Regions from separate parts of the Homo sapiens genome. Here regions 1, 2 and 4 are each linked to region 3. Evidence: fine-mapped QTL for protein levels in blood plasma. A gene starts in region 3. Each other region holds a variant in brackets. All regions are shown on one strand. Distances are from middle to middle. Region 1 overlaps CD274 (CD274 molecule). Region 2 overlaps PDCD1LG2 (programmed cell death 1 ligand 2). Region 3 holds the start of PDCD1LG2 (programmed cell death 1 ligand 2). Region 4 overlaps PDCD1LG2 (programmed cell death 1 ligand 2).

Region 1 (8,139 bases), 43 kb after region 3:
TCCCAGCCCTTTGGGAGGCTGAGATGGGTGGATCACCTGAGGTCAGGAGTTCGAGATCAGCCTGGCCAACATTGTGAAACCCTGTCTCTACTAAAAGTACAAAAATTAGCCAGGAGTGGTGGCAGGTGCCTGTAATCCCAGCTACTCGAGGGGCTGAGGCAGGAGAATCAGTTGAACCTGGAGGCGGAGGTTGCAGTGAGCTGAGATAGTGCCATTGCACTCCAGCCTGGGTGACAAGAGCAAAACTCTGTCTCAAAAACAAACAAACAAAAGCATCTAGAGTCAAACACATATTCTTAGAAATAGCCATTATAATCCTTTAAGAGTATCTGATTCAAATAAGTGATAGTCTTTTAAAATGGAATTTCATGACTAAAATCTCACCGGATGACACATTAAAAGGTCTATACTTCCTTGAATGATAAGTTTTGTCATGCTTGTTTAAAACCACAGATCTATGGTCCTAACCATTGCTAGCCCTTAATCCTCAACTTGGCTTAGTTCTAGTTTCCTCGCTTTATTTTCAAAACTTGAAGACTGCAATACATCTATCTTCCTACACACTGGATTGCATACCCGTTTACAGATCTGGGAAAAGTACTTTCTTAGAGGTAAGTCCCTTTGTTTCCCTATAGTTCTATTGGGTTCCACTCCTTCTCTCCCACCCTCTCTCCCTTAGATCTTCAATGTAGATGACAGGATTTTGACTCTTCTTGGTATGGTCCTAAAGGAAGCTGCCGAATGAGAGAGAATGAAAATTTTCAATACATTCTTTTTTAAAATAAAATCTTTTGATACTTTTTTCATTGTGCAGGATTCAAAAGCATGCTGTATAAAAACATGCTGTATAAGCAATGAAAAAAGAACTAGGAACAAGGCTGCAAATATTCCAAGTAACTTTCTCCACTGGGATGTTAAACTGAACATTTTATTAAACACAAAATAAACAAGAAAATGGACATGCTGGTGTACCAAGTAACAAAATAAATAAGAATATTTTATTAAATTAATGCAGGTACAAAAAGTGACAATCAAATGCAGAATTAGGTATCATCTCTGCCTATGCCATTTACGATGAAACATGAGACAAAAGGGATAAAGTGCCTTACAAATCCAACACCACAAGGAGGAGTTAGGACTTAGGAATAGACTGAGTAGACTATGTGCCTTGCTCAGCCACAATTCTTGCCTGTAATTCACACAAAGAACACTGTCACACCAATTACTGTACAAATGCACATGTACAAACAGATAACACAAGGAGCTCTGTTGGAGACACTGTTTCTTCAGCCTTGACATGTGGCAAAGCCAAGGTACTCCTTGTCATTGACACCAGAATATGGCCAAGAGGGAAAGGAAACTCTGGGATCTCCCAGGGCATCTGAATCTCGAAACCTCCAGGAAGCCTCTTAGGAGGGCTGTGTAGTGATGACAGCTGGTGGCATTCAAGGGTTCAAGCACAACGAATGAGGCTTTTCTGGCACAGGGTAGCTAGCAGTCAAGGTACACTGCCGGAATTTCCAGAAAGAAAATGTGATTTTGCAAGTACAGCATCAAAGTGAAGTTTATACTTGACAGAAAGCAGAAAACAAAAGTTCCAGACATGATTCTGTCATACAGAGTTAATAATAAGATTGCTTTTTAGGACTAGATTGACTCAGTGCACCCTGGAGAGCCCATGGGTCTCCTTTTGAGCAAACATAAACAAATCCAAACTCTGTCCTAGAGCAAATACTTAACAAATGGTGGTTGTCTAAATGTATATGTAGGACATATTTAACATATACTGGATCATATGAAAGATAATGAAAAGCTATGGGAAAGATAACTTAGAAACAAAGAAGGCATGGATCCTCAGCCCTGGGAACTTCAAATTCATTCCATCTGCTATATAAGAAACACTAAAATAAATAAAAATAGCAAAGTACACAGCAGACATACAATGTGTTACTATTTAGGAAAAAAATTTTAAAAATACGTGCTTTTAACATACATTTCCAAATGTAGACTATCTTTAGAAGAACATATGAATGAAAGGCAGTAGCAGTTGCTTCTGGAAAGGAAACTTGAATGGCTTGGAGGATGAAGTGGAGATTTTCCAACCATCTCCCATGGGATCTTTTGAATTTTGAATCATGGAAAGGTATGAATTTAAAATTTAGTGGCATTTAAATAGAAAAGACAGAACTGTTAAACAATACCAGACACTATATAAACAAGCATTAGATTATATGGCAAAGGCAAATCAGGAATAAATATAATGCTAGAAAAGGAATTCCAGTGTTATTTTTCAGGGTTATTTTAAGTACCGACCTCTCTTTGTAAATGAAAATTACTCTGATTATTAAGATGTTTAAGTATATCCAACCGTCCCAGACCACATTGGCCTATTTCCTCCTCTTGGCAACACTGCTCGGGTTTTCCCCTCGCATCATCCTTATGCTATGACACTGGACTAAATTGTAATAATACATTTTCTTGTTAATCTCCTCATTATACTATGAGCTCCTTGAGGACAGGTACTTTGTCTTGCTCACATCTGTAGATTCAATGCCTGGCACAGCGATTGATATTGCAAGGGCACTTAATAAATGGTTTTTGAATAAAAGAATTGCTTAAAGTAAAATATAGCTGTAAATTGTATTATAAAAGGACAGTGGGTGGCAGTCTGAGGTCTGCTATTTACTGGTTTGGGCAAGTTACTTAATCTGTTTGCTTCCTCAGCTGTACGATGGGTAAAATAATAGTGGTTATCACAACAGGGTGGTTACAGCGATGAAATGAGATTATGTGTGTAGGCTACCACATAATTGTAAAGCTGATATTTAAATGGAACAGATACTGCACAGACACTTGAGGTCTGAGAATAAGATTAGGTCAACCAGAGTATTAATGGGTTAAATAAAGGTGACATCCTATGCAACCAACGGTTTGATCTTTATGCTTCCAATGTATACTTGTAGTTATAGAGGAGACCAAGCACCTTACAAATACTCCATGTTTTACTAGATGTGAGCAAATCATTAAGCAGCAAGTTTAGTTTGGCGACAAAATTGTAACATCTACTACAATATATCTTCAAAAGAAATCATTCACAACCACACTCACATGACAAGAAGACCTCACAGACTCAAAATAAATAGGAAAAACTCATACATAAATACTGTCCCGTTCCAACACTGAGACTCTCAGTCATGCAGAAAACAAATTGAGGCATTGAGTGGAGGCAAAGGGCACTTCTGCAGGAACTGACCCTCAAATTAGGGATTCTCAACCCGTCTTCCTAGGATGAGCAATGGATGATTTGCTTGGAGGCTCCTTGTTCAGAAGTATCCTTTCTCCCTGTCACAGGCGTCGATGAGCCCCTCAGGCATTTGAAAGTATCAAGGTCTCCCTCCAGGCTCCCTGTTTGACTCCATCTTTCTTCATTCTCCTCCTCTGCTTTCGCCAGGTTCCATTTTCAGTGCTTGGGCCTTTTAAGTCCCACATTGCCTGCATCCCACGGGCCCATTCCTTCCTCTTGTCACGCTCAGCCCCGATGAACCCCTAAACCACAGGTTGAGAATCCCTGCTTGAAGATCAGAAGTTCCAATGCTGGATTACGTCTCCTCCAAATGTGTATCTGGAGAGTGATAATAGTATATTAATTTCATGGGAAGTGGTCTGGGGAAAAAGTAACAAGAAATCTAATAAAAAACATAACTCATAGTTGCTGATATGATAAATGATAAATTTGAAATGAGAGAAAGCAGCAGGTTATATTTGTACCCAATTATCCTTACATGATATCCTGGAAAACCCCTCAGTCCTGAGCAAATTGGGATGGCTTGTCCCCCAGCATGACCCAAACAACATTTGCTACTTAGCTTTACAACACAGATGATGCTATGGGCCACAGAATGAAACTTGCCTGAGCTTGTCCAGGTTAATTAGACTGCTTTAAACTTGGGCTCATTGTTAAGTTTGGTTTCTAACTACATTAAAAAAATTAGAAACCTTAATATAACTTTCTTCTTAGTTCAATAACCTGGATGAGGTTTTTCTGCCCTGCTTATAAATGTAAACATTTGTAGCAAAATGGATTGAAGCAGATGGGTTAAGAGTAAGGGTCTGTGGTTAGGCTAATGGCCCCCAAGCTTGATTTTTGTGATCAGCTGTGTGTTCTTGGGCACTTTACATTATCTTCTTGACCCTCTGTTTTCTCTACTGTAAAATGAGGATAAATTCTAGTATTTCTCTCTCTCTCTCTCTCTCTCTCTTTGGTAATGGCAAGGGGTGGGGGATTAAATGAGATACCGTGCATGGTGCAATTAACATAGTATTACAATACTGACACACAATATTTTAGAATCAATTAATTATCCATCCACCTAAGTCATCCTTGTCCCCTGCTGCAAGGAGCTGCTAGGGTGCAGGGCAACAGAAGATTAGCAAATGAAGCTGACTCCTTCCCCTTCCCTGCTCCTAAACCTCCTCAGACGGTGGAGGAGTTCTTGTGTTAGCTGTGAGGCAAAGGGGAACCAGCATTCTTTAAAAGGAGAGGAGATTATGACTGATGGATTTCTCTTTGTTATTGCTTTAGCTTTTTGTTTCCTTTGACTTTTACTTCCCAATTCCTTCTGATATTCTTACCACTTTGCTTCTTTGAGTTTGTATCTTGGATGCCACATTTTTTCACATCCATCATTCTCCCTTGAGAAAAAGAAATCATTTTTATTTCCATATAGCACAGCTCTACATCCCATACAGTGACCCAAGTTTAAATTTCAAGTTCTGTGAAACATTTGTAATCCCTAGGAAGTCTGGTGGACATCCTTATTCCACAGGTCCCAACTTATGAGGTTAATTAATTCAATAGTGTAGGGCACATGCTTTTGATCCTAGATGTTCTTGAGGAGTATACACTTTTATTTTTCATCTTTTCCCAGAGATGAACCAAATTCTGAGGTATTTTAATATCTATTGATTTCTATCCATTTCTACTGCCAACTAATCTTTTTTTCCAGAGAAATATTCAAAATGCATGCTGGCAACAATTATTTCTTTGTGCAAATCAACTCCATCTCAGGATCTTACTGTCATTGAAACTTGATCCTTATATTCTGGCTATCTCAGTCCTGTTAAGAATATAATTTTTGGAAACAGCTTATCTCTACTCTCTCAGTTAACACTACTTTCCCCCATGTAAGGGGTTATGGGGAATTTTTCAACGACTATTGGAATCCCCTTCCATATTCTACTTCCCTATTTAACATCAGACAACTCTATACCATCACTGGATCTCTTGGTATACTTCTCTAAGTATTGGAGGAATTATTTACTCTGACTCATCTTAAATGGGAGGAAATTATTTGAATATACTCATTTTCCTGGATTTTAATTGTTCCCACAGGTAAATGGAGAAATGAACACATGCAAATTATGTAACATCCTCTACCAAAAATTTTGCAAAATACTCTATGGTAAACATACTACAGTTCTACAGAGGAACTATTTTTATTACTTAGGGTACCCAGAAACCAGCTGGTTGCAACTAATGCAAGACTAAAATGCAACTGAAAATGACGGGCATTTTAGCTCTTTCTCTTCTGTAAGTCTGTGGTTATTTTCATGATAGAAAAAAACTGTATGACACTGCATCTTCTACCTCCATCCATACCCATTCTCCTGCCCCTCACCCCTTACGCTTCATCTTCACCCAGTGATCCCACTCAGCTTCAATATAATTGCTGTTGAACAGTGGAATGCCTTTGCACCACCTTGCAGAGGTTAAGTCGGGTTTCCTTGCAGCCATGATCCAATTCTCACCCCTTCCTCACCCCCAGTGGAGACCACTGCAATTAAGGAAATACTACCTTTTCTTAAACGGAAGATGAATGTCAGTGCTACACCAAGGCATAATAAGATGGCTCCCAGAATTACCAAGTGAGTCCTTTCATTTGGAGGATGTGCCAGAGGTAGTTCTGAAAAACAAAACAAAACGAAAACAAACTGACTAAAGATAAAATTTTGATGGGAAGGGGTCAGGAGAATGGTCATCCTTGAAGTTTAGTTTAGCTTTAGGATAATTTTCTTAAATGCCAAAGTTTGAGTGGCTGGAATGGCGAGATACCTGTGTTAAAATGGGAACAGCATGGAGAAGTGTGAGAAGC[C/T]CAGGCTTTGAAAAGGTGGTGCTGGGGCTAAATTCTGCTGCCCTTAACCAGTTTTGAGGTCTTGGGCAAGATACTTAACCAGTGTACAAAATACAAATGCTAATACATTTCTTGTGAGGCTAATATTTATAATGTGCTTGCACAGTACCACATGGAGTGGCTGCTCACTATTAAATGGCGGCCTTGATTATTTCACTTCCTCTTGCTTTTTTTTTTTTTTTTTGAGGCAGAGTCTTTCTCTGTTGCCCAGGGTGGAGTGCAGTGGCGCAATCTGGGCTCACTGCAACTTCCGCCTCCCAGGTTCAAGCAATTCTTGTGCCTCAGTCTCCCGAGTAGCTGGGATTACAGGTGCACACCACCACACCCAGCTAATTTTTATATTTTTAGTAAAGGCAGAGTTTCACCATGTTGGCCAGGCTGGTCACAAACTCCTGACCTCAAGTGATCTGCCCACCTTGGCCTCCCAAAGTGCTGAGATTACAGGCATGAGCCTCCGCTCCTGGCCCCTCTTGCATTCTTTAATATAGAAGCTAGTAGCCTACAGTACATGGCAGAGATGGCCCACAGTAGAACATGGAAGGCCAACCAGCACTGCTAAGGAGCTCCCACCTCCTCCTATCTGTCATCATGATTGGAGGCCAATGCTTGTTGTCTTATCTTTCTCTGCAGTTTGAACATCTCTGGACAACAAGCCATTAGTATCTCTTACTAGGCTCCTTGTCTGGGGTACCATGCAGGAGGAAAGGGGGTCCCATGGTACACAGATGTTCAGAGGCTGCTAACTCCCACCTCTCACCCTTAGTCAGCTCCTGCCTGGCTCAGCTCTCCACTGAGACCCATGATCCATCTTTGACTACCCAGGTGAAACTTTAAAGACACAACAACAGCCAGCTTTTTCCGTAACTTACAGTTTACAATGCCTGTTCACGTATGTTTTATTTCAGTTTCAGAACAACTTTATGAGTTAGGCATGCCAGGTATTTAAAAAAAAATCCCCAATTTACAGATGAGGAAACAGACTCAGTGCAGTTAGGTGAGTTACTGTAGGCCACCCAACAAGTAAGTTGTCATAAAACAGCTTGTAAATGGCAGGAACCCACTAATCTAGCTTTTACTGAAAGCCAGTTCAATACCTGAGGACTCGTACCCCAGTAAGAGCATCCCCATCATTTTCTAAAGTTTTTTCCCCCTCTTTCTGTTCACAACACCGTCCTGGATTATCTTTTCCTATTGATTGACTTTTCTATCTAATTTTTCAGTTGTTTTTGCTGAAGTACGTGGCATTTTCCTATCAACATGTATTGGGGGAGGGGGCAGTGAGCAGCTCTTCTCAGAATATCTTTGTGTTTATATTAAATATCATGCTCACTCGCCTCACTTTCTTTCACATTCTGAGCCTCTCATCAGACTCTGTCTCCCACCCTACCTACTTCTGTAGAGTAGTGAGATAAAAAAAAATAGTTGAATTTGTGCAGGCAATGGTCTCAAATCATTTTCATACACTGTTGCTAATCTGACCCTTACAATAAGCTTGCTCAGTAGATTATAATCCTACAGGGAAAGTGAAGCACACAGAAGTCTAGTAATTTGCCCAGGGACACACAGCCTCATGTTCTATGCACTAAGCAGACTGCTAGAGTTGAAATATTGTAGACTACCTTGGGAGAGGCACCGGGGAGAAAGGGTCCCTCATGTTTGGCATAAGATAGAAAAATATGTTCCATTTATTTCCTGCCACCCTGGAAAGAGGGAAGCAGCTCTGATGTGCCAGGATTTGGATTCCTGAAACAAGGCCTGAATTGAGTATTCCTCTCAGGTATTCCCCAGGTTTCCCGGCTATGAAAGCATTTCCCACATGGTGTTGGATTGCCTGTTTTTTGTTTGTTTCTTAGTTTTTTATCTGTTTCCTGAAGAGTGTGAACTGAGTCTTATTATTCTATGTGTATCCAATGAGTACTACAATGCATGGAACAAAAGGTATATTCCA
Region 2 (8,121 bases), 12 kb before region 3:
TGAGGCCAGCCTGTGTAACATAGCAAGACCCCATCACTAAAAATGTTTAAAAAATTAGCCAGACCGGGTGGTACATGCCTGTAGTCCTAGCTACTCAGGAGATTGAGGCAGGAGACTCACTTGAGCCTGGGAGTTGGAGGCTGCAGTGAGCTGTGGTTGGGCCACTGCACTCCAGCATGGATGACAGAGGAAGACCCTGTCTCTAAAAAGTTTTGTTTTAATTTAAAAAAGGTAAAAATAAAGGGCATATCAGATAGTGCTATGAAGAGTATTTGCAAAGGAGGTTTTATTGGGCTAGGGTATGTGAAGCATTTCTGGGGAGCTGACAAAGTTCTTCTTAACCTGGGTGGTGGTTACAAAAGTAATCACCTTATAGTAATGTTAAGCTTTATAGTTGTTTCATGTGGTTTTCTCTGTGATATATTTTACAACAGAAAGCTTTAAATAAATTTTCAAAATATATTTAATTAAGTAAAATGAACATCTGTGAACCTACCACCTACCCTAAGAACTAGCACATTACTAATGATGTATGTCTGCCTGCACCAGAGGTAACTGGCGTCCTGAATATCGGGCTTATCAGTCTCTTCCTTACTTTTTTTTTTTTTTTTTGAGACGGAGTCTCACTCTGTCGCCCAGGCTAGAGTGCAGTGGCGTGATCTTGGCTCACCGCCACCTCCGACTCCCTGGTTCAAGCGATTCTCCTGCCTCAGACTCCCGAGTAGCTGGGATTACAGGCTTGTGCCACCATGCCCAGCTAATTTTTGTATTTTTTGTAGAGACGAGGTTTCACCATGCGGGCCAGGCTGGTCTCGGTCTCCTGACCTCGTGATCTGCCCACCTTGGCCTCCCAAAGTGCTGGGATTACAGGCGTGAGCCACCATGCCCGGCCTCTTCTTTACTTTTTAAGCTTTATCTTCTATATATAAGGTATGCTTAAGCAATATATTTATTTATGAAAAGGACATTGTGCTATGTGTTATCTTCTGGCCTTAATTTTTATTTATTTATTTTTTACTCAATATTATGCTCTAAGATTCATAGATGTAGTTACATGTTTTTGTAATTTATCTACATGCTATATAATAATAGATGTAGTCATATGTTTTTGTAATTAATTTATTCACATGCTATCTATTATATATATAATATATATTCTGCAAATATACCATGATTTCTCTATCCATTCTCCAGTTGAAGTTCTTCTAGACCTACTCCTGGAATCAAATTCTCCAGGGCATATGGATTGTTTTTATTTATTTGTAATGACTGAGAATACCGCCATAAGTGTTTTTTTTTCTTTTTTTTTTTTTTTAAATGGAATCTCACTCTGTCACCCAGGCTGGAATACAGTGACATGATCTTAGCTCACTGCAACCTCTGCCTCCTGGGTTCAAGCAATTTTTCTGCCTCAGCTGAGTAGCTTGGATTATAGGTGGCCACCACCATGCCCGGCTAATATTTTTCTATTTTTAGTACAGAGGGGTTTCACCATGTTGGCCAGGCTGGTCTCGAACTCCTGACCTGAGGTGATCCACCCGCCTCGGCCTCCCATAGGGCTGGGATTATAGGCGTGAGCCACTGCGCCTGGCCAAGTGTTATTTTTAAAATTTAAAAATAGAAAAGAAATGTGCACTGATAGGGTACTAAGCATCACATTGATTTAATTCAGGTATCTTCTTTTCTTTTCAATGAAGCATGCAGGTCTGGGGCTGTACAAGGAGCAAGGAAGAAAATGTAATCTTCTGTCTGTCTGGACACCCTGATAGCTGTAGCTCTGTCTCAGGCACTGAGTGTTGCAGTCTGATTACTTTCATATTTTTATATGAGAAATTTCTTGTATTTTTAAAATTATATTTTATTATACAAATAATACCTAATACATGCTTCTTGTAAAAAACAAAAACCTGAATATACATAATAGATAAGACTATCCTTTTTACCCCCATCCCAGACCTCCTCCCCTCCCCAGAAGTAAACACTAATTATTTCTCAGATCCTTTAGTTTTTTTGTTGTTTTCTTTTGCAGGTACCCTCCTCTGAAATCAAAACTCTTTAATTAAAGAGACATGAAATGACAAGATTTTAAAAAAATCCCATGAGGAGAAGGCATTCTAATTTAGGTAGGTATTTAATATTTGTCTGAACTGATGTTATCTGCATAGTGGAAAGCAGAAAAGAATTCCAAATTCGTGAAGAAAATGAGAAAGCGCTACATTTTTACTTTCCTTTCAGTTAATTCAGCAACATAATTCATTACACATATTTTTTGATTCTGTGAATATCCAGAATAAACATTCAATACGTATCCATATTCAGACTTCAGTGCAAAAACCTATTCCAAAGTTGGAAGATTTATGGGTTGTCTGCCATTTTTGATTACCATCATCATGGTAGCACAGTAAAGTAGAAAGGACATTAGCTTTGTTGAAATCTTGCCGGTGTCACCTAATAACTATGTAATCTTGGGGAAATTAAGTACCTTTTCTGAGTTCTAGTTCCCTCACCTGCAAAATGATCATTGTGAAGATTAAATGAACTATACCATATGTAAATTGCCTAGCACAGTATCTGGCATTTAGTGAATCTTCAATAAATGTAAATGCTCTTCCTTTTGCCCCATTAGTATACCTAACTGGGAGCTAGTGCCTATCTTCATTGTCTTGTGCTGATTATCTTAGAAGAAAAGATCCTTCCTCTGTAGAAAGAGCCAATGAGGGATAAAAAATGTTGCCCCTTGTCACCCTAGCTCACTCCTTTCCTAAGAGAAAAGGCAAAAAACAAAGACAGAAAACCCAGGATCTCAGTGTTTTTAAGCTACAAACCCACAGAGGTTACACATTCCCCAAGTTTTCTCCTGAAGCCCCCAGTCCTGCCACAGGATGGGGAACAGTGTCTTTTGGCCCTCATTTCCCTTATCACTCTATGGAAACTTGAAGCTGTTTTGTAGCAAGGAAGTTATTGCCCCTTTTGCTTGTCTCTAAAATGCCAGCCAGGCAGGGTTCCTTGCAAAGAAAACATGAAAAGTTCCTTTAGCTGGCCCTGCAGGCAGGAGCAGAGTAGAAGTAAGCAGAATATCTCAGGGTCTTCCTTTGAGGAGGGCCCCAAGTGCATGTCTCTAGTGCCAGACCAGGCTGGGCAGCTCAAGTGAGTGAGAGGAATGTGACTGGGTGAAGAGTGATCTGGAACCAGCTAGTAGGGAGGAGAAAGCTCTTCGAAAGGTTATCAAGTGCCAAGGGAGCCATTATTTCTCAATCATGAGCAGAAAGATGATTTCCCATGGGGCTGGGGCTATTGTCTTGAGGACTTAATCCTCTGTCCACACCTCTATGTTACTCTCTTAGCTCCTGGTGTTCATCCAAAATAGTGCACTCATGGTTCTAACTACACCCTCGAATGGTCTGAACTACCTTCCCCAGGAGAACAACCAACTGTGAAACTGCTTTTCTTTCTGCTCACCCTCATCCTCCAATAGAAGTCCTTTCTTCAAGTCCAAAGGGATAGCCTTAAGGTTCATTGTTCATTTGGGTTTTAGGAAGACTCAGTAAACCACATTAAGGTATGAATGACCAACGGCTGCTATTGTTGCTTTTCAAAAAAGAAACTCACAGAAACAACTAATAATATGCAGAATGTCTTCAAGACATTATCTTTAGAGTAACGGTGTTCCCTGGCCATTGTCTCCTTACTCTCCCTGCCAGAAAGGAAGGGGACAGCTGCTTGGCATCTCACCTTTAAGGGAACTCAACCCCTGCCCTCTTGTATCAGTTTAGATTTACATGGTCTGAGTGATCCTGTCTTCTTGTCATTACCCTCACTGGATAGTGGGAATAGATGGAGCAATATTCTCAGTCACCGTTTCTGTCAGATAGGGACATTGGCATGTATAAGCCACCATGGGGACTCTTTTTTTTTTTGTGGTGCTTGGAATAGCCCAGAAATCATACGTCCTCTCAAAGAAAGCCCTCAGCCTGAGGGCCACATTCTCATTTTTGGCTTTGGCTAGGAACCACCACCTGCTCTTCTTTCTTAAGCCTCTCCCTTTGTCCTTTCTTACCTGCTATCTGGTGAAGCTGCAATTC[CA/A]GGCTCAACATTAGCAGGAGGAAGATCATGTTCTGTATTTGATCTGAAATAGACAATTGAAAGTCTCAGGGCCTTGTGAAACTTTGCTGGGTCTTTGGTTCTTTGTTCACTTTTGAAAACAGGGGAATAACAAATCATTTGGGGAAGGTGACAGACCATGGTAGAGTGGAGCTGGGAGGAGAAGTTATAGGTTGATTTCCTGGAGAAGAGAAGATATAAATTAAGAGTAAACAAGACACTCTTTATAAATCCAAATGAGAAGTTCTTCTTCCTTTTCTAATGGCCGTTTCTGAATATGAACCAGTCCTTGTGAACCACACATATTGGCAGTTACCTGCACGTCTCATGAAGCTTTCCATAGCTTTTTTCAATAGCTGGCCCTTGAACCCCAACTTTGTTTGTCAAATGAATAATGGACACCATCTTCTTTACCTGGACTGGATGTCTGGGAGTCTGACACTTGAAAATAAGACTCCATAGAACAGAGCTACATTCTCAATAAATACTTGCTAGTTGACTGAGCAAAGTAGTCAAGTGCTTTTGAGTGCTGGAATTGAGTTTGCCCCTCTCTTGAACTACCTCTTACTAAGAGGTTTAGACAGGGAGAGTAGGGAACTGGCTCTGATGAGGGTGGGGGCTGCGAATGCCCCACCTTGGTCCTGCTGTACCTCCCATGCTTTCTCCTTTACTCTGAAGCTTTCTTTATCCATGGACTTCTTATGGTTGAGGAAAGGGACAGAGCACACAGCTAATCTGATAATGGTCTGAAACTGAGGAGGCTTTCCAACTTTTATCAGCCATGGAATCATTTCTTCAGGGGAAATCTGTTGGAGCCATACATCTAAATCAGGCAACAGCAGAGCTGCTCTGAGTGTGATGAAAAGCAGTGGAGGGTTTGGGTCAGGAGAATGATAGAACCTCATTTACATCATTAAGAGACAACTAAGCTTTGGTGTAGGCAATAGACTATTGCTGAGAGGGAGAGGTTGCTGGCAAGATTACAAGCAGTGAGATCGGTTAGGAATGTGTTTGCAGAAATGCTGATAGCTTAGAGTAGAGGGGCTAGTAGGGGTGAGAAGTGGTCTGTTGGCGAGTTTATATATTTTTTCTTTGTTTTAAAATTTTATTTTAAAAATTTCAACAGCTTTATTAAAGTATAATTGATATACGAAAGAGGGTTATATGTGTCTAAGTGTGTATATATATTTAAAACACAAACTTTTTTTAAGTGCACGACTCTGTGGTTTTTAGTATGTTCACGGAGTTGTGCAACAAACACTATTATCCAATTTTAGAACATTTTCATTACCCTGAAAAGGAACCCCTTACCCATTAGCAGAAACTTCCTATTTCCCCTTCCCTTTCCCTATGGCCCTTGGCAACCACTAATCTAGTTTCTGTCTCTATCAATTGCTTATTCTGGATATTTCATAAAAATGGAATCAAGCAATATGTGGACTTTTGTGGCTGGCTTTTTTCACCGAACATAATGTTGTCAAGGTTCATCTGTATTGTAGCATATATCAGCACTGCGTTCCTTTTTGTGACTAAATAATATTCCATTGTATGATATACCACATTTTGCTTACCCATTCATCAGTTGATGGTCATTTGGATTGTTTCTGCTTGTTGGCTATTATGAATAAAGTTCCTATGAAAACTCATATACAAGTCTTTGTCTATGTATACTTTTAATTATCTTGGGTACATATGTAGGAGTAGAATTGCTGAATTAAATGGTAACTCTATATTTAACTTTTTGAGGAATTGCCAAACTATTTATCAAATATATGATTTGGAAATATTTTTTCCCATTCTGCACATTGTCTTTTCAGTTTCTTTATAGAATCCTGTGAAGGATAAATGTTTTAATTTAATTTTGATTTTATTTAATTTTGAAACACAAATTGATTTTAAGTAAAAAAATCCAATTTATCTACTTTTTTCTTTTATTGTTTGTGCTTTAGGTGTAATACCTAAGAAACCATTGCCTAGTCAAGGTCACAAAGATTTACATCTGTATTTTCTGCTAAGATAAATATAAATGGAGCAATTGTACAGGGACAACTGGATGTCCACATGCAAAAGAACAAATTTGGAGCCTTACCTCATACCATATACAAAAATTAAACAAAATGGATCAAGAACCTAAATATAAGAACTTTAGTTCCAAATTTGTTCTACTGATTGTGGGCATTCAGTTGTGCCTGTACAATTTGTTGAGGAAATTATTCTTTCCCTATTGAACTGTCTTGGCACCCTTGCAAAACATCAATTGATCATATATATAAGGATGTATTTCTGGACTCTCGATTCTGTTTTATTGAACTATATGTCTATCCTATGTCAGTACCACACAGCGTTGATTACTGTAGCTTTGTAGTAAGTTTTGAAACTGGAAAGTGTGAGTCCTCCAACTTTGTTAGTCTTTTTCAAGATTTTTTTTTAGGGGGCTATTCGGGCTTCCTTACATTTTCAAATGAATTTTAGGGTCAACTTGCTCATTTCTGCAGACAAAGGAAGCTGGAATTTTGGTAGGGATTGCATTGAATCCATAGATCAATTTGGGGAATACAGCCAGCTGAATAATATTTAGTCTTCCAATTCATGAATACAGCATGTCTTTCCTTTGTTTAGGCCTTCTATAGTTTGAAAAAAGACCTGAAGGGAACTGCTGACAGGCTAGATATATAGTTTGAGAAAAAGAGGGAAATCTGGGAAAATTCCTAAGTTTGGGGCTTGAGTCACTAAGGCAATGGAGATGCTGTTTATTAAAATGGAGAAGGCTGGGGGAGAAGCAAATTAAGGAAGGGGAAAAAGAGTTACGTTTGTTGTAGATTTGGTTTGAAATGCCTATTAGATAGCCAAGTGGAGGTGTTTAGTAGGCAGTTGGGGTAGAGATGTAAATTTAGGAGTCATCAATGCAGAAGTGTTAAAGATTTAAAGTCATGGATATCTGCATTACATCACCTACAGAGAGATAGGAAAGAGAGTGCCCAAGGACTGAGACATGGGGTATTCCAACATTTATAGATCTTTGTGAAGAGCGGTCACCAGCAGAGAAGATTGAAAGGAAGGGTACAAAGGCAAATGGCAGTGTGTATTATCCATGCATTTTATTTTCTGTATTCTGATGCTTTGACACCTGGGGCCTTGCTGACCCTGAAGGGACTGCCGCTCCCAGGGTTAGCCAATTCTAACCTCTAAGAGAGAGTAAACCACTTGCCCATGAGCACACCTTTCAAATGCAAACCAACCCATTTCAGAGCCCATACCCACAACTGCCTCATTTATTGGGGGCTTTCACATTCCCAACACTATGCAACTGCCTTAATCACCCCAGGGCCAAGTACCAGAAGACTAGGGACAGCCCCTATGCCCCAGAGCCTGCTGAAATTATTTATATCAGCTAATCCTAAATCCACTCACCCTGCTTCACCCATTTCTTCCTGTTGAAACCACAATAAAGATCTTGCGCACCCCCCACCCACCTCCTGGCTGACCCTGGTGCTTCCCCATGTGGCCCTTTGTGGCATGGTGTGCCCCCCTTCTCTTGGGATCTGTGAGTACAACATACTTTTTTCAACGACAGTCATTTCCTGATATATTGGCCTCACCATACCTAAATAATAATAAAACCTATATTTTAAAACACAGTGCTACAAAGGAGTGATCAGTAGAGCCAAATACTCTTGAGAGTTGCATTTAGCAGTATGGAGGTCATGGATGATCCTGACAAGCACAGTATCAGTGAGTTTTGTACAGATGAAAGCTTGAATAGGTTCAAAAGAGAATGGGTAAAGATGTGGCAACAAATATAGGCAACTCTCTCAAGAAGAGTGCTATAAAAAGGAGAAGAGAAATGAGTCAGTAGCTAGAGGGAAATGTAAGGTCCTCAGTGAGCTGTATTCTTGTTTTTATTTTAGAAAGGGAGATCTTACAGCAGGTAACAACTGGGAACAGAATTAAGTGCTTTCCACAGGGAAATGCTCATGGCATACCTTAGCTTGACCAGAAGATAGCCTTCCTTATTCAGAT
Region 3 (8,143 bases):
ATCATAGAGCACTGCAGCCTCGAATTCCTGGCCTCAAGCAAACTCTGGCTTCAAGTGATCCTCCTGCCCCAGCCTCCCAAGTAGCTGGGACTATAGTTGTGGGCTACCTTGCCCAGCTTATTCTGCTTATTTCTACATAAGAAGTATCAATTTACTCAATTGCATTAGGAAGTTGTATCTTTCCAGAGAAATCAAGGAAACATCTGTAAATTCTGAGGATAAGTTCGTAAACAGAAAATGAGGAAATTTTTTTCAAGCAAAATTTGCAAGAGGATCAGAAATGATGGTAGGTTCTAGCAGTTTCACTTCTTGGTTGCTATAGGCCTAGTTTCTTGCCATTTCTACTGTCTGTGGAGATCTATTTCCAAACTGATAGATGAAATACAAATAATTGTGGTGCTGAAGCTTTAATTATCTCTTTCTTTTATTCAAAACATTTACTTGGTATTTACTATGTGCCAAGCTCTAGTATACAAGGGTAAATAAGACACAGCCAGTGCTTTTATGGAATTCTCTGGTCTGTGCAATAAGTGAGGCATAGACATTCTATGGAAGTATCTCAAGAATCCTAGCAAATCATTCCTTTGTGTAACAATAACCAGCCTAAAGGATCATGTTTGTAAAATACTTCATTCTTTGTTAAATACTGCCAGTCTTATCCCATTTGCCTCTTCCCTCTCCCAGTGTCTAGTAGAGCCCGGCTATCCATGAAGACCTAGATAAATGCATACCCAATTGATCTGAAATACCTGAACTAACCACTGTTTTGAAGCCAAGTGTCTAAGACACTAATTGTAATTAGCAATGTCTGAACATAATCTGAATTTGAATGCCTTTGGGCAAGTTATGCAGAGTTTGCCCCAGGTCCTACCATTTTCCATTGTATTAGACCTAGCTGGATTCACTTATTTTTGTTGCCTGACAAACCCAATAGGTATTTGAGTTTTGGGGGGATCTTACAGCCAGTACTCTGCTGTCATAGGTATATGAGTAATTATTTGATCTCTAAACCATCTGTGGCATAGATAGACTACCAGTAGCCTTAAGATGCTATTCTACTCAATTTAATAGAGCATTTAAGTTCAAATTAAATCTCAATTTTTTAAGCAATAAACAGTGAGTTCCCACTTTTTATAAGCCTTTATATTAGAAAGTTGTGAGAATTCATAGAATAATTTATCATTGGAGAATTCATAGAGGGTTTCCTCTAAGAAAGGGCCCTTGCCCTTAAAGACATTGTACCATAATTGGAAGGTTAAAACTCTCACACATGAAAAATAGTAAAACTGATGTAAAACAAGTGATAAAATTGCAAAAGCCCTAGAAGTTGACTAAAGGAAGGGAGACTTCCCAGAGGGGTAGGATTTGAACTGGGCCTTTGAAGCACTGGTAGGATTTGGGGTTGAAGCTATTCTAAAGGGCAGTGCATAGCTGACTCAGAAGCAGTCTCAGAGGTGCAAATGCACAGGCGTGTTGAGGGGACAATGAACAGAGTAACTTGGCTGGACACTTAGGTTGAGAATGTCAAGAGCTTAATGCCAGGCAGAGCTGCCAATCGGGAAATAGTGGCAGTCACTCAAAAACTAAGTGACAATACCAAAGGAGTATCTGAAAAAGATTACATCTAATTTTTTTTTTGAGTATAGAATTGAGGGTGGGTGGAATTGGTAGACAGCCTCTCAATTAGGGGGTCACTGTATTCATCTAGATGTTTGGTAACAAGGCCCTAACTTCAGGTCAGAAAAAGGAAGCAAGGAAGAGGAAGAAGAAACATATAAGACAATTGACAAAACAATTGACTGCTGATCAGCCATGCACAAGAGACAAAGAGAAAAGCAACAAGATTGACTGTGGTTTTAAGACCAGACTGGCAAGACAATATTGGAGCCATGGGGGAGGAAGGGTGGCAGGGAGAAATAGAAGATGGGGAGCTGATTTTAGAGGGAAGACAGTAAGTTTGGTTTTAGTCTGGGCAAGGCATAAGCATTCCAAAAAATTGTAGGTCCAGAGTTTGGGACAAAATTTAGGGCTAAAGATAAGGAAGTTATTTCTAATATGGAAATGTTAGTTAATATTGAGGAATGAATGAACCATCTGATGGGGAGAATATAAAAGAAAGATTATAAAGAAAAGATCTGAACTCAGGAACGTCCCAAAATTTGGAGAGCAGGAACAGAGGACTAGTGAAAAAGGCAGAGACAAGGTGGTCAGAAGAGCATCAGAAGCTCCCCCAGGGCAGTACTTCTGAGGCAATGGAGGAAAATCCCTCAAAGCAGGGGCAGTTCATCATAGGGAGCCGTGAAGACTAAGAACTGGAAGTCAGCCCACAGGTGTGTTAGAGACAGCTGGAAGGCATCAGAGGTGACTGGGGCTAGATAACCTTTCAGATGCTCTTGTCTGTCCTGGAATTCTGTGAGTTGATTTGAAGGTTATCGAGCCCAGCTACAGTGGAGCAGGGTGTGGCATGAGGAGGTGATACTACAGTTGCCCCTTTACAGAGTAACCCACGTATGCAACAATTAAGACATATGACATATTTGGACATTAGCATGTGGAATTAAAATGACACACAACAATCTACTGGTTGCTGTCCAATGTATTGTAAAGCAAATAAACTCTGAAGCATGACCCATAATACTGTCTCTACCATCTCCTTTTTCAAATCAACCTCAAACTTCCCCCTGTCCATTACACGAACATTTCATTTCTGGTGATTCTCCTGACATTTCATCAAATAAATCCATTCAACAATTCGGCAAGCACCCACTAAGCACCTATGTGTATTGCCAGGTACTGCACTAGGAACTTGGGACTCAGAGAACCTTAAAGGTGTGCTTCTTGCCTGTGAGGAGCTCCAGTTCAATGGAAAAGCTCACCAACAGGAGAAATCTGGGGAGAAGACACCCTGAAGCAGCAGACAACAAAGAGCCTGATGATGGGGAGACCTCAAATAATGAAGGCAAATAGATCAGGTTCCAGTGGCAAGAGCAGCAGGACCAGGATTGTTCATCCACTCACAGAATCTTAGGCTTGGAAAGGAGCTTGGAGGACATCCAGGCCAACTCCGTATTTGACCCTGATACAACTGTCTCATTACTGCTCACACTGAATATTTTTACTCTGCATTTTGTCAATTTAGGTCTCTCATTCCCTGCCCCTCAGAGCCATAGTATTTTTGGGTTAAAAGTCCTGATTAGTTGGTAATCTCACTCAGGCTTAGCCTCTCCACCTCCATCCCCTCCACATGAACCCATTGCCTTTGCTCTTCTACTCAGTGCATCCAGGCGGTGAGCAATCAATAGCAATTATTTCAGTTCTGTTTAATTTTTCTACCTTTTCGCTGATCATTTTATATGGAAAGAATAAGCCTTTCCATAGTCCCCAAATCATGCTTTTGTTCAATAATGATTACCTCTATAAGTTATTAAGATAATAGTTTTGGGTTTTTTGTTTTTGTTCCCCCTCCACCAACAGCTGCCTCTTAGGCATAGCTTGTAAACAAAGGCCAGCCTGGAGGGATCACCGTCTGCTAAATGGATAATCACAAACAGATGTCAGTCATAGGAAAACAGATTTTTAAGTTCTTCACCATTAAGCCTCCGAAAACTCTAAGCTGAGAGACAATCTTAAGAATAGTTATATTATTTTACAGTGCACATATTTGGTGCAGAAAATATCTCACCTTATAAAACTGAGCAACAAGAACAATATGCATAGGAACAAGTGAGAGAAATCTGGGGCAGGAGGACATTAGCTTATTTGTGCCCCTCAGCACAATTTCTGAGGCAGAATGTCTCTTGCCTCAAATGGTGTGGAGAGAAGGTAGGCCACCCTTCCCCCACCCTGGCAGCCTCATCATGGTCCACAACATAATAGTATGAGAGTATCTCAACCCACTCGTTACTCACATGAGGACTTGCCACAGCTCCACAAGTAAAGATGCAAAAGTAAACAACAAAAAACAGTTGCTGTTTGTGTTAGATTTCCTTATAGTAGCCACCAAAATGAACAGCCAAAAGGAAAAACAAAACAATCAACATGCAGTAGCTCCAACCCAGGATTCTTTCTAGCTGGGACATATGAGGATGGGTAACAAAAAAGCACTCAAAATTTGGCGTTAAGATATATTCAAGAGAAGAAAAGTTGTTCATTCAGCTTAAGGTTTGCCGTAACATGAGAGTGAGTCAAACCAGAACTAGTTCTGAGGAACTGACGAAAGCCTGGCTTATTTGGAAAGTTTTGGTTTTGCTTTTAGCAGTTTGTCTGTGAATGGGATTGCATTCCTGATTTGGCTCTTGGCTTAGCTATGGTTGGTGTTTAGGAATACTAGTGATTTTTGTATGTTCATGTGGGATCCTGAAACTTTCTGAAGTTTATCAGCTTAAGGAGCTTTTGGGCTGAGACTGTGGGATTTTCTAGATATAAAATTATGTCATCTGCAAACATGGGTAGTTTGACTTCCTCTCTTCCTTCTTGGATGCCTTTTCTTTCTTTCTCTTGCCTGATTGCTCTGGCCAGGACTTCCAATAGTATGGTGAATAGGAGTGGTGAGAGAAGGCAGCCTTGTCTTGTGCCGGTTTTCAAGGGGCATCCTTCCAGCTTTTGCCTATTCAGTGTGATGTTGGCTGTGGGTTCATCATAGATGGCTCTTATTATTTTGAGGTATGTTCCTTCAATACCTGGTTTGTTGAGAGTCTTTTTTTTAACATACCTTGAGAGTTTTTAATACCCTTTTATTCCCTCTCTTTCCCCTATTCTTATATGTGCTCCAGCTTCCCCATTGTCCCTGGAGCACATTTAGGAATAGGGGAAAGGGATGGAATGAAGAATACCAGCATGTCTTAGTGCTGTGCCAGGAAATTGACTCATTTCCTAGGGCTTCTGTAACACATGACCTCAAGTCCTTGGCATTCCCTGACTTATAGTTGTATCACTCCAATCTCTGCCTCCATCTTCAAATGACATTCTTTTCTGTGTGTATCTCTACATTCCTCTCCTCTTATGAGGATACCATCCGTTTGATTAGTGCCCACCCTAATGCAGTATGACCTCATTTAGACTACATCTGCGTAGACCCTACTTCCAAATATAGTCACATTCTGAGGTCCTCAGTAGACATGAATTTGGGGGGAACATTATTCAACTAACCTCACTTCATTTCATAGTGCCTCATTTCATTCTCAGTGCAATGTGTGGTTTAGAGTTAGACCCATTTTACACATGAGAAAACAGGACCAAGATCAAACAATGTTTCCTTAGTTGCATGGCTGAATTTGAACTCGGACCTCAGTGGCCCCACTATACCTTCAGGCTTGTGATTGGTGAGATTAAAACCACATGGCAAGAAAAGGCAAACTTGAATATAGGCCTGAATGATCAATCCTTCTCCTGCTGCCTCCCGCCCTTTTCCTTGTGCTTATAGGGGTAGGACCAGCAGAGATGTGGGGCTGAACACTCAGACAGAGGATGTTTTTAAGAAAACATCTCTCCTTGCCTGTCCTCTAAGCCTTCCCTGCCTCCTTGTTTCTTCTACAAAAGCAAGGATCTCCTTTCCTCCTCCTTGTCCTGCATCCTCTTTTCGTCCCATCGCTTGAACAAGAAGTACTTTAAGAAGTACTACGAAGCTGTGTAGTACCTACAGATGGGAGTGGCTGCCTAGACGGCAAGAGTTGGGACTGTGTCTGTGGGACCCGTGCTTCCTCTGGGGATCTGCTTCTACACCCACGGCTCCAGGCATGTGGTTTCCTTAGGAGTTGCCATTCTCTTACCTGACCCTCTGTTCCTGGCCACAGTGACTGGCTGAGGAATGGACATATGTCCCCTGTGTGGCTTTGAGTTTTAGTATCTATGGAAAACACACCTCACCTACCAGAGTTCCTGTCCTTCTTTAGGAGTGAGGTGCACTCACCACAGTTTCCTTTCCTCTCTCTTGGGTAGCCTTTCTCCAGGCTTGGCCTGCCTCTCCTCTTCACACTTTCCTTTGGGCAGTTCAGCTCTGCTTTGCCACAGTTTAGGGCATCCTGAAGCAAAGGAAGGCCCAGGTATATTCACAGCAAGGCCAAATGAAACTCAAGCTAGTGTCTCAGCACATTAGCCTGCCTCATAAATCTATATGTCTAGAGAAAATAATGGAGGGTTACAAACCAAAGTGTTAATAAAGGCATTTCTGGGTGGAGGTAACTTTTTTTAGTTTTTTGTTAAACTTTTGTTTTACATAGGTAACTTTTTTAGTTTTTTGTTAAACTTTTATTTTACATAGGTAAACTCGTGTCATGGAGGTTTGTCATACAGATTATTTTGTCCCCTAGATACTAAGCCTAGAACCCAGTCATTTTTTTTTTTTTTTTTTTTTTTTTTTTTTTTTTTTTTGCTCATCTCCCTCCTCCCTGGGGCCTCCACCCTCAGCTAGGCTCCAGTTTGTGTTGTTCCCCTCTTTGTGTCCATGTGTTCTTATCACTTAGCTCCCACTTATATGTGAACACATGTGGTATTTGGTTTTCTGTTCCTGCATTAATTTGCTAAGCATAATGACTTCCAGCTCCATCCATGTTCCCGCAAAGGACATGCTCTTTTTTACGGCTCTATAGTATTCCTTGGTGTATATGTACCACATTTTCTTTATCCAGTCTGTCGTTGATGGGCATTTAGGTTGATTCCATGTCTTTGCTATTGTGAATAGTGCTATGATGAACATGTGTGTGCATGTGTCTTTGTGATAGAATGATTTACATTTCTTTGGGTATATACCCAGTAATGGGATTGCTGGATTGAATGGTAGTTCTGTTTTTAGCTCTTTGAGGAATTGCCACACTGCTTTCCATAATGGTTGAACTAATTTACACTCCACCAATAGTGTATAAGCATTCCCTTTTCTCCATAACCTTGTCAGCATGTTGTTTATTAACTTTTTTTTTTTGAGATGGAGTCTCACTCTGTCTTCCAGGCTGGAGTACAGTGGTGAGATCTCAGCTCACTGCAAGCTCCACCTCCTGGGTTCATGCCATTCTCCTGCCTCAGCCTCCTGAGTAGCTGGGACTACAGGCGCCCGCCACCACGCCCGGCTAATTTTTTTGTATTTTTAGCAGAGACGGGGTTTCACCATGTTAGCCTGGATGGTCTGGATCTCCTGACCTTGTGATCTACCTGCCTCAGCCTTCCAAAGTGCTGGGATTACAGGTGTGAGCCACCGCACCCGGCCAACTTATTAACTTTTTAATAATAGCCATTCTGACTGGTGTGAGAGGATCTCTCATTGTGATTTGGATTTGCATTTCTTTAATGATAAGTAATATTGAGCTTTTTTATATGCTTGTTGGCCATGTGTATGTCTTCTTTTGAAAAACGCCTGTTCATGTCCTTTGCCCACTTTTTAATTGGGTTGTTTGTTTTCTTCTTGTAAATTTGTTTAAGTTCCTTATAGATACTGGATATTAGACCTTTGTCAGATGCATAGTTTGCAAAACTTTTCTCCCATTCTGTAGGTTGTGTGTTTACTTTGTTGATAGTTTCTGTTGCTGTGTAGAAGCTCTTTAGTTTAATTAGATCCCATTTGTCAATTTTTGCTTTTGTTGCAATTGCTTTTGGTGTCTTTGTCATGAAATCTTCACTCACTTCTATGTCCAGAATGGTATTGCCTATATTGTCTTCCAGGGTTTTTTATAGTTTTAGGTTTTACATTTAAGTTGTTAATCCATCTTAAGTTGATTTCTGTATCTGGTGTAAGGAAGGAGTCTAGTTTCCATCTTCTGTATATGGCTAGCCAGTTATCCCAGCCCCATTTATTGAGTAGGAAGTCCTTTCTCCATTGCTTGTTTTTGTCAGCTTTGTCAAAGATCAGATAATTGTAGGTGTGCAGCCTTATTTCTGGGTTCTCTATTCTGTTCCATTGGTCTATGTGTCTGTTTTTGTACCAGAACCATGGTGTTTTGGTTACTGTACCCTTGTAGTATAGTTTGAAGTCTGGTAGGATGATGCCTCTGGCTTTGTTCTTTTTGCTTTGATTGCCTTGGCTATTTGGGCTCTTTGTTGGTTCCATATAAATTTTAAAATATTTTTTTCTAGTTCAGTGAAGAATATCACTGGTAGTTTGGTGGAAACAGCATTGAATCTATAAACCGCTTTGGTCGTTTTAATGATATTGATT
Region 4 (8,000 bases), 24 kb before region 3:
TACAAGCTCCGCCTCCCGGCTTAACGCCATTCTCCTGCCTCAGCCTCCCCAGTAGCTGGGACTACAGGCGCCCGCCACCGCGCCCGGCTAATTTTTGTTGTATTTTTTAGTAGAGACAGGGTTTCACCATGTTAGCCAGGATGGTCTCGATCTCCTGACCTCATGATCCACCCGCCTTGGCCTCCCAAAGTGCTGGGATTACGGTCGTGAGCCACCGCGCCCGGCCTAATGTGTCCATTTCTAAAATATATATATATAGTACAATATAGTTTCCACAAGAAAAAAAATATATGCATCTAAAACAATATTACATATTTTAAATAAGCTCTTACAAACAAAAGAATATGTATGAAACATGCTGGAATAATTTCCTGTGTTAAAAAAGGGGAATGAGACTGGAGAATGTGGAAAAAAGAGAATAAATAAATAAGACAAATAACAGAGGCTTTTTGGGTAAGGAACCTAATCTATTCAATTCCTTCTAAGTAAAAATAAATAAATTATTAAATGAAAAAATTCTTCTCTGTCTAAATTGTTTCTTTTCATTCATTGAAACTCACTTCCAATTTCACCTTCCCTACAGAATTTTATCTTAATGTAACATATTTTTGTTTGACAGATTTTGTATTGATTATCGTTATATGTCTTTACAACAACAAAATATTTATAGCTATTGAAATGAAAACTTTTCTCTTGTGACTATGAAGCTTTAAATGTTCAGGGTGTTCTGCATTAAGATCTAATTTTTTTTTTTAACAGTAAGTTTTAGGGTACATGTGCACAACGTGCAGGTTTGTTACATATGTATACATGTGCCATATTGGTGTGCTGCACCCATTAACTTGTCATTAAACATTAGGTATATCTCCTAATGCTATCCCTCTCCCCTCCCCCGACCACACAACAGTCCCCAGTGTGTGATGTTCCCCTCCCTGTGTCCATGTGTTCTCATTGTTCAATTCCCACCTATGAGTGAGAACATGCGGTGTTTGGTTTTTTGTCCTTGGGATAGTTTGCTGAGAATGATGGTTTCCAGCTTCATCCATGTCCCTACGAAGGACATGAACTCATCATTTTTTATGGCTGCATAGTATTCTATGGTGTATACGTGCCACATTTTCTTAATCCAGTCTATCGTTGTTGGACATTTATTTCTATTATTATTAACACATATTTGATCAAAATGTAAAATGTTATGAATATTGATAATTATTAAACATGAAAGATGAAAATTTATTGGGAATGTGTCCCTTAATAAGATGGATATGGCTCTCTTTTCCAAATTATTCATGAATCCGAAGAACCATATGACATGGTTGGAATGATTTTATATAATAGAATTCAGCCTCAATTCTATTTCTATTTTTCATTTTTTTGTAGCTTATAAAGGCTAAGGAATCTTGTTCGTATGAGTAAATCAATGGGAATGGAAGCAGTTTCGTTACAGCAATGCCATTTCATTCTTTGACCTGATTTACATGGCAAAAATTACTCATTTTTGATTATCAGTTATTAACTTTATAAGGGCCTCCTTCAATTTTGTTGAAAGCAGAAAATTAGATACCACATTATTTGCAAAAGGGTTTTTAGTCATAACAGTTCCATCAGGTGTCAATGTTCCCAATCATTCTTTTATTTAACACTATAGAGGGTTTTACACCCTGGGACAATGGACTATATTCATGATGAGTGAGTGGTAGGCTTAAAAGAGGAAGTGTTTTAGGGGAACCCCAAGAGCCTTGCCTGGCATGCACATTGTCAGGCTCGTCAATTTTGGGAACGAGTATTTGGGGAAGATGAGGATCTAGGAACTCACTTCCTAAAACTGCCTGTGCCCATACATCCCTTGAAAAGTCTTTGTAATCCCCAAATATCCCAGTTTGATGACCAACACTATAAGGAACAAATCTCTCCACAACTGAGAAATCCCTGATCTAGGTAAGGAGTAGGCAGGGTGCCTCCCCAGGAATGAGAGACAGTTCTCAGTTTGAGAGAATGGGCAGAAGGCCTGGCCCATTAATACAGCATTCAGATAGAGATCAATAAAAACAGAGGTGGTGATTTAGGGTTGCAGATATTCGAGTACATCAAGGCATCCTGAGAATGTACAGCCTTACATTAAGGGAACTCAGACAAACTTCAGTGTTCTAGAGTTCCTCCCAGCTGCTGCCTGGATGTAGGAAATGCAATAAAGATAGAAAACAGTTACATCTAGGCTAATGGCTTTCCTGGTGACTCATTGATGGTTGAGGTGTGAGGAGGTCACTGCCCCTGTAACAACTGAGGGTCTTTTAACCAAGTCTCTGGACACTTATTATATGCCGGGTACCATGCTCAGTTCTTTATGTTCATTATCTCTCTCAATGTTGACAACAATCCTGTGTGTTTGGTACTACTATTGTTCGTCTTCTACAAATAAGCAAAATGTGAGGTTATGAAAGGCAAAATAACCTGCCCAAGGATAAGGGCGAACACAATATTCATCCTCATGTCCAGTCCCTCTAGTTTGTCCTTCTTTGTACCAGATCATAAAGTCACACACTTTCTGCCAAGGTTAATGGTTTTTTGGGGCCAAAACCCACAAACCCTCTAGAAGACAGTACAGACCATCTGAGGTCCAATGCGTGGGAGGGGAAGAGGCCAGAGAAATATTGGCATCATTTATCTCAGAGCATTCAAGCCTGGAGACCATAAGCCAATGAACAAGCAAAATCTATTTTTTATAGTTGTTATATGTCTTTCCTCAAATCACCTTTTCTAGAACAAACAAGAGTGTGAAGATTCTCTTTATATTTAGATTTTCAATTGTGCTGGAGTGGAGAGATCCCTGAATCCAGAGGAATAGGGACAGCTATAGACTTCATGGGACTCTCTTGGGCTACCCACTTCCCTTCTCTGGATCTCAGCTACTTCATCTGCAATAAATAGGGCTTGCATTTGAGCAGTGTTTTCCAAACTTGTAACTTTTTATGATCCAAAGTAAGAAAAAAAAAATTTATACCATGACCCAACACGCACACACACACACACGTCCCTCAGAAATTAGTTTTACAGTACTCAGTCCTACTCTGTGATGTCGTCTGATCTACTCTGTCTATTCTCTTCTATACATTATTTTTTAAAGGGCGGGAAACGTGCATCTGGTTGCTACTCACTAAATTGATATTTTAATCCATGAATGGGCGGCAAACCATGGTTTTAAAAACTCTGGATTCAGGGTATAAACTATTGAAAAAGAGTATCTTAATAATCAAGTCAGGGATGTTCCATGGGAGAATTGTGAATTAGGCAAAGCTTATTTTTCATACCCTCCCACATTTCAGGGACTAATTTTCCTGGCTTCCTCCAGTCCCATTTTATTCCTATAGGTCCTACCCCCTTTCACTTGTACTTCGGCTGCTTTGTACTCAGATGTCAAAAATTATTTCCGAGCAGATGCTTTCATTTTCTCTGAAATAGCTGTCTCCTTAAAAGCAGCCTGCTTGTTTTTGCTTGAGCTACCTTTAATGGGTTTCTGTGACTTGCAGATCCTCTGTTGGAGAGATGCTTCCATGGATTCTAGTCCTTGACACCACTCACCTTTGACTTTCAGAGTCAGGTACTTGTAGTCCCAGGCGACCCCATAGATGATTATGCATTGGTACTGTCCTTCGTCCCTCACTTGGACTTGAGGTATGTGGAACGAGGCCTTCCCTAGGGGCAGCT[G/C]CTCCTCCAGCAAAGTGGCTCTTTCACGGTGTGGGGATGTATCATTTTCCACCTTTTGCAAACTGGCTGTTATTGCTCCAAGGTTCACATGACTTCCAGTGTCAAAGTTGCATTCCAGGGTCACATTGCTGCCATGCTCTATTATGTACAGTTCCTTAGGGACTGTCACTGTGAATAAAGCTGAAAAGAAAACAAGATATTTTGTCATTGTCTGCCTTTACTTTACATTCCAGTTCTTACGAAGTGTAACCTGAGACCCATCTCACCCCCATTTTCCAAAAGGCACCTGTCTTATCTGGACATTCCCGTGGCGAATCCTTTTTCTCCTTTGCCCCATCCATCTGGGCAAGAGTGGGATTCTTGACCCGCTGATCTGAGGTGGCTCTCTCCTCCAAACATTCCCTCCTGTGCAGCTGACTGCCCTTTGCTCCTCTCTGGGCACCCCAGCAAGAGCTTCTGGTGGACAGCACTGCTTGCTCTCAGAGGCCTCTCCCACCTCCAGTCCCTGACCCCCCAAGCCCTGCAGTCATTCCAGGTCATCTGTCATATAAGAACAAAATGCTTCCTTTCGACTTCCCTACCATCAAGGTCTGAGCTCATGTTACTTAAATACCTTCACATCCTATTCTCCAGGTTTGTTTCCCTCAATCCATATTGATTAATCCATATATTTTTGTGCCAGGTATCACTTCCTCTCACCAGTGATGGTAATAATAACTATTACTTGTTGAATTCTTACAATTGTCAGACACTCTGCTAACACATCGTCTCACTGAGCTTCTTCCCAGAAGCCAGCAAGGTAGGTAATAATATTCTATCCTTTTTTTCAGAAAACAAAAATGAGGCACAAAAAGGTTAAGTAACTTGCCCAAGATTGCACAGCCAGAATCAGATCAGGTATTTCTAACCACCACATCATACAAGCCCACTGTAGATGCTTTCTATTTTCTGACAATAAAGGGAAAGGAAAAATGGAACTGATACTTAATGTATATCTAGTATGTTCTATGCCAGGCACTGTGCTAGGTACTTTTAACTATATTGTTTAATACTGAAAACATGACCGTGAAACCTGTTTTGTCATTATGGTTATATAGTTGAGGAAACTGGCTCCAAGCAGTTCACTTCAGGACATATGTTAGTAAAGTTAAAATCCAGAGCCAGTCAGATGTTTGACTACAAAATCCGTAGTTTCCACTCAGAGTTTACCAAAATGTGAGGGACACGCCACTAGAAGTATGTAAGATGATTTTAGATGAGGCAGAATCAAAGCCTAAAGGGAGTTAAATTATTCAGAGAGGAATTTATTCCCTTTTCAATTCTATTTTAATCCTTCAATTGCATATAATTTCAACTAGACTTCCACACCTCTAACACTGGCTATTTTTCCTTTTAATCAAACAGGAAGCTTCCGGGTAGATAACAGTATCTGGGTAGGATTTGATAACACTGCTTTATTTTCACTGCATTTATTTTTCTTCCTATTCTCTATTTACCAGTGCAAATGATACTTGTTTTTCATCTACCACAGGGGTATGTGGCTTTATTTTTTAAAAGTTGAATTGATCTAAATAGTTCTATAAAAAAAGCATAAGGAGTGGCCAAACTAGTAAAGGTAGTGTTACATCAATAAAGTGTGAAAAATGACAAAATTAGGCTGCTTCCATCATTAATGAATGGGTATTCATTATGATGGAGGTATAGGAAAATCTTGAAGTAGTTTCTGAATAATCACAGAAGATTAGATCAAATTATGTTCAGTAGAGCTTGCTTCATTCATTTATTCATTCATTCAATCAAATCATTCATTCAACAAATATTTGGGAGCTGCTTCTAAGCATTAGCTATTCCAGAAGTTGTTTCAGTATAAAATGTGATACGGAAGAGCATAGGATATAGTGACAGGTGAGCCTGGGTTCAAATGCTGACTCAGGATTAGGAGTCCTTTGACTGTGAGTCCGTCCTTTAATCTTTATGAGCTTCAGCCTCTTTATCTATAAAATGAGGTTGAACTCTACCTCTCAGTATTGTGGTGGAGGCTGGACGAGGTGTTACATGTGAAGTGCCTAGATCTGGCAGGCAGTAGGCACTCAGCAAATGTTCGTTCCTTTCTTTCGTACCATGTTTTAATTCTTGGGAAAGTGGTAATTCATATGTGGAATGCATGGCCAATCTTTATCCTCCAGGATATTTTACTAACCAGGACAGTCCATTCTCTGATCAGATTTCACAGTATAAGTAACTTTTGGGTTTTCTGCTGCTTGAATGATTCCCACTGCAGATGTCCTCTGATTCAAGTTTTTCTTCCCACTATCCTGCAAATCTTTGAAGGCAAAGACCAGGCTGAGTTTGCTTTGATATATCCAGTACCTAGCACATAGCAAGTTCTAGTTAAGAGCTTGGCAAATAAATGACAGAAAGAGAGAGAGGGAGAAAGAAAGGATGACCCTGGTTATATATTCACCTCTGCTTTCCTTTCATCAAACTGCAACTTGCCTGTGATCACACAAATTGGCATTCTTAATTGCCACACAGCACACTTGATAGTGATATGCACAAACTTGAGATTTATTTCAAATGACCGACATTTTTGGCTTGCCTCTATCCCTGTTTTAACCATGGCTAGAACATTAATGTGCCTTTCTACAGAGAGGAGTTCACGTGTGCCCAGCATTCTTTTGTGCAGGAGGGGCACAGGGGCAGGGCTATAAGGTGAGTGTACATGTGTAAAACAATGCTAATCATATCTGCACTTGCTGTGCCAGGTTGCAAAGACCCTGGAATAAGGCATGTAAAAAGAGATTTCCTGTATGATTCTTTTATTTTAATCCACTGCACACTTGGAATAGCTCTCACCTCAGAATCTCCATAATGGGACCCTCTTAAGGGCAGATCCCTTTATGATGGAAGCCGTCCTTAAATACTTGAGTTATTAAGTCCCTTATAACTTAATGCAGAGCCACCTGATACCAAATCCAATCTGTCCTTGAAGAATAATATTCAACTATTCATCAAATATGTAGTAATCATATGCCAAGTTCAAGAATTACCTACTACTTTTACTCTTCTATAATACTTCTCTTGTTTAATTACATTTGATAAACAGGAAACAGGGAAGAAAATGGGGCTTACAAGGAAGGTTAGTTGCTGAGTCTGCATAACAACAAGAATTAAATAGATGACTTTGGGTAGAGACTGTTGAATCTATTTAGCAAATTTATTTACTGCACTATGCTTTCTTGTCATAAGAAAGGGAACGCCTATAACTTCCTCTGGAACTCCCCTTAGCTTACAGCAGAACTCCCCTCTTTACTGCCTGGGCCTTTGATAAAAGTCCATTTTCTTCCTATTTTTCCTGTCTGCCTTGTAAGAATGCGTGCCAGGAGTGATAGGCATAAAATATGCTACTTGTCAGACAGGTGACATTTTTCAGCTAATATTTACAAGAGAAAAGAGCAATTAGCAAACATGAATCATATGTCTGAATAGCTCAGAATACCTAGAAGATTAATTGTTACTTGGTCTAATTTTGCCCCAAGTAAAGTTTCTAAGACATGCAAACTTTGAGCTTGATTACTCCATACAAAATAAGAGGTTTAGGCAATGCAATAGATTTTTGAAATCCTGAAACATTCTTGCTTATTGTAAGTTACAGAGGCAATCAAGACACTGATGCAAACAATTCTATGAAGAGGTTTTTTCTCAAGCCCAGCTGCAAATTAGATTCACTAAGCAGAGGGCCTCAATCTTGGCTAACATTGGAATCACCTGGGAGGCTTTTAAAACACACTAATGCCCAGGCACTACTTTGGATCTGTTAAAATTACATTATTTTGGAGATGAGGTCAGCATCATTAAAGATTTTCTTTTCCTGGGAGCTTCTAAAGTGCAGACAGTATTGCGAACCATTAGTTACACAAAGTAACATTTGCACGTGCAAGCGTCTTTTACCACCTTGCCTTCAAAGTGTTGTCCTCAACTTCACCTGGAAGCTAGGTAGAAATGTAGAATTTCAAGCCTTCCCCAGACCTAGGGAATCAGGATCTGCATTTTAAGAAGGTCACGGTGATTTGCATGCACATTAATGTTTGAGAAGTAGAGTTATAACACTGGTCTGCATTTGGACTGTCACTGGGAAGTAGCGTAATAGTTGATATTTCTTAAACACAGTAAGTCAGACACTGGGCTAGCCCATCATTTCATCTGATCCTCCCAGCAACTCTGCGAGGTAGATGTTGCTATCCACATTTTACAGATGGGGAAACTGAGGCTCAAAGAAGTGATGCAACTTGCCC

What was found. PIP is the posterior inclusion probability: the model's chance that the variant is causal. Protein levels are from antibody-based Olink assays in UK Biobank. Linkage for the fine-mapping came from a reference panel and not from the study's own genotypes, which makes the PIPs less certain.
Region 1: its variant is fine-mapped to the plasma level of the PDCD1LG2 protein (UK Biobank, PIP above 0.99).
Region 2: its variant is fine-mapped to the plasma level of the PDCD1LG2 protein (UK Biobank, PIP above 0.99). The variant lies in the coding sequence of PDCD1LG2. If it changes the protein, the assay may bind it differently, which can mimic a change of level.
Region 4: its variant is fine-mapped to the plasma level of the PDCD1LG2 protein (UK Biobank, PIP above 0.99). The variant lies in the coding sequence of PDCD1LG2. If it changes the protein, the assay may bind it differently, which can mimic a change of level.

Annotation. Positions count from the first base shown.
Region 1 is chr9:5,463,323-5,471,461 of GRCh38, reverse strand. It overlaps CD274 (CD274 molecule), which reads right to left. Exons shown (of 7, transcript NM_014143.4): 5 at 5,856-5,963; 6 at 4,633-4,692; 7 at 908-3,622. The coding sequence ends at 3,600. All of the region lies in intron 2 of INCR1 (interferon stimulated noncoding RNA 1), which reads left to right. Among named protein-coding and RNA genes, the nearest start is that of CD274, 17 kb to the right of the region's middle. The variant C/T (reference allele first, on the strand shown) is at 6,153.
Region 2 is chr9:5,518,538-5,526,658 of GRCh38, reverse strand. It overlaps PDCD1LG2 (programmed cell death 1 ligand 2), which reads right to left. Exons shown (of 7, transcript NM_025239.4): 2 at 4,058-4,126. The coding sequence starts at 4,112. It overlaps INCR1 (interferon stimulated noncoding RNA 1), which reads left to right. Exons shown (of 3, transcript XR_007061406.1): 2 at 2,030-2,123. Among named protein-coding and RNA genes, the nearest start is that of PDCD1LG2, 12 kb to the right of the region's middle. The variant CA/A (reference allele first, on the strand shown) is at 4,083.
Region 3 is chr9:5,506,569-5,514,711 of GRCh38, reverse strand. PDCD1LG2 (programmed cell death 1 ligand 2) reads right to left here and starts at 4,181. Exons shown (of 7, transcript NM_025239.4): 1 at 3,909-4,181. The region is part of intron 2 of INCR1 (interferon stimulated noncoding RNA 1); the gene reads left to right. RefSeq lists enhancers at 4,083-4,132, 4,293-4,352, 4,413-4,492, 4,434-5,633.
Region 4 is chr9:5,530,630-5,538,629 of GRCh38, reverse strand. PDCD1LG2 (programmed cell death 1 ligand 2) reads right to left here. Exons shown (of 7, transcript NM_025239.4): 3 at 3,580-3,885. The region is part of intron 1 of INCR1 (interferon stimulated noncoding RNA 1); the gene reads left to right. Among named protein-coding and RNA genes, the nearest start is that of PDCD1LG2, 24 kb to the right of the region's middle. RefSeq lists an enhancer at 7,012-7,061. The variant G/C (reference allele first, on the strand shown) is at 3,706.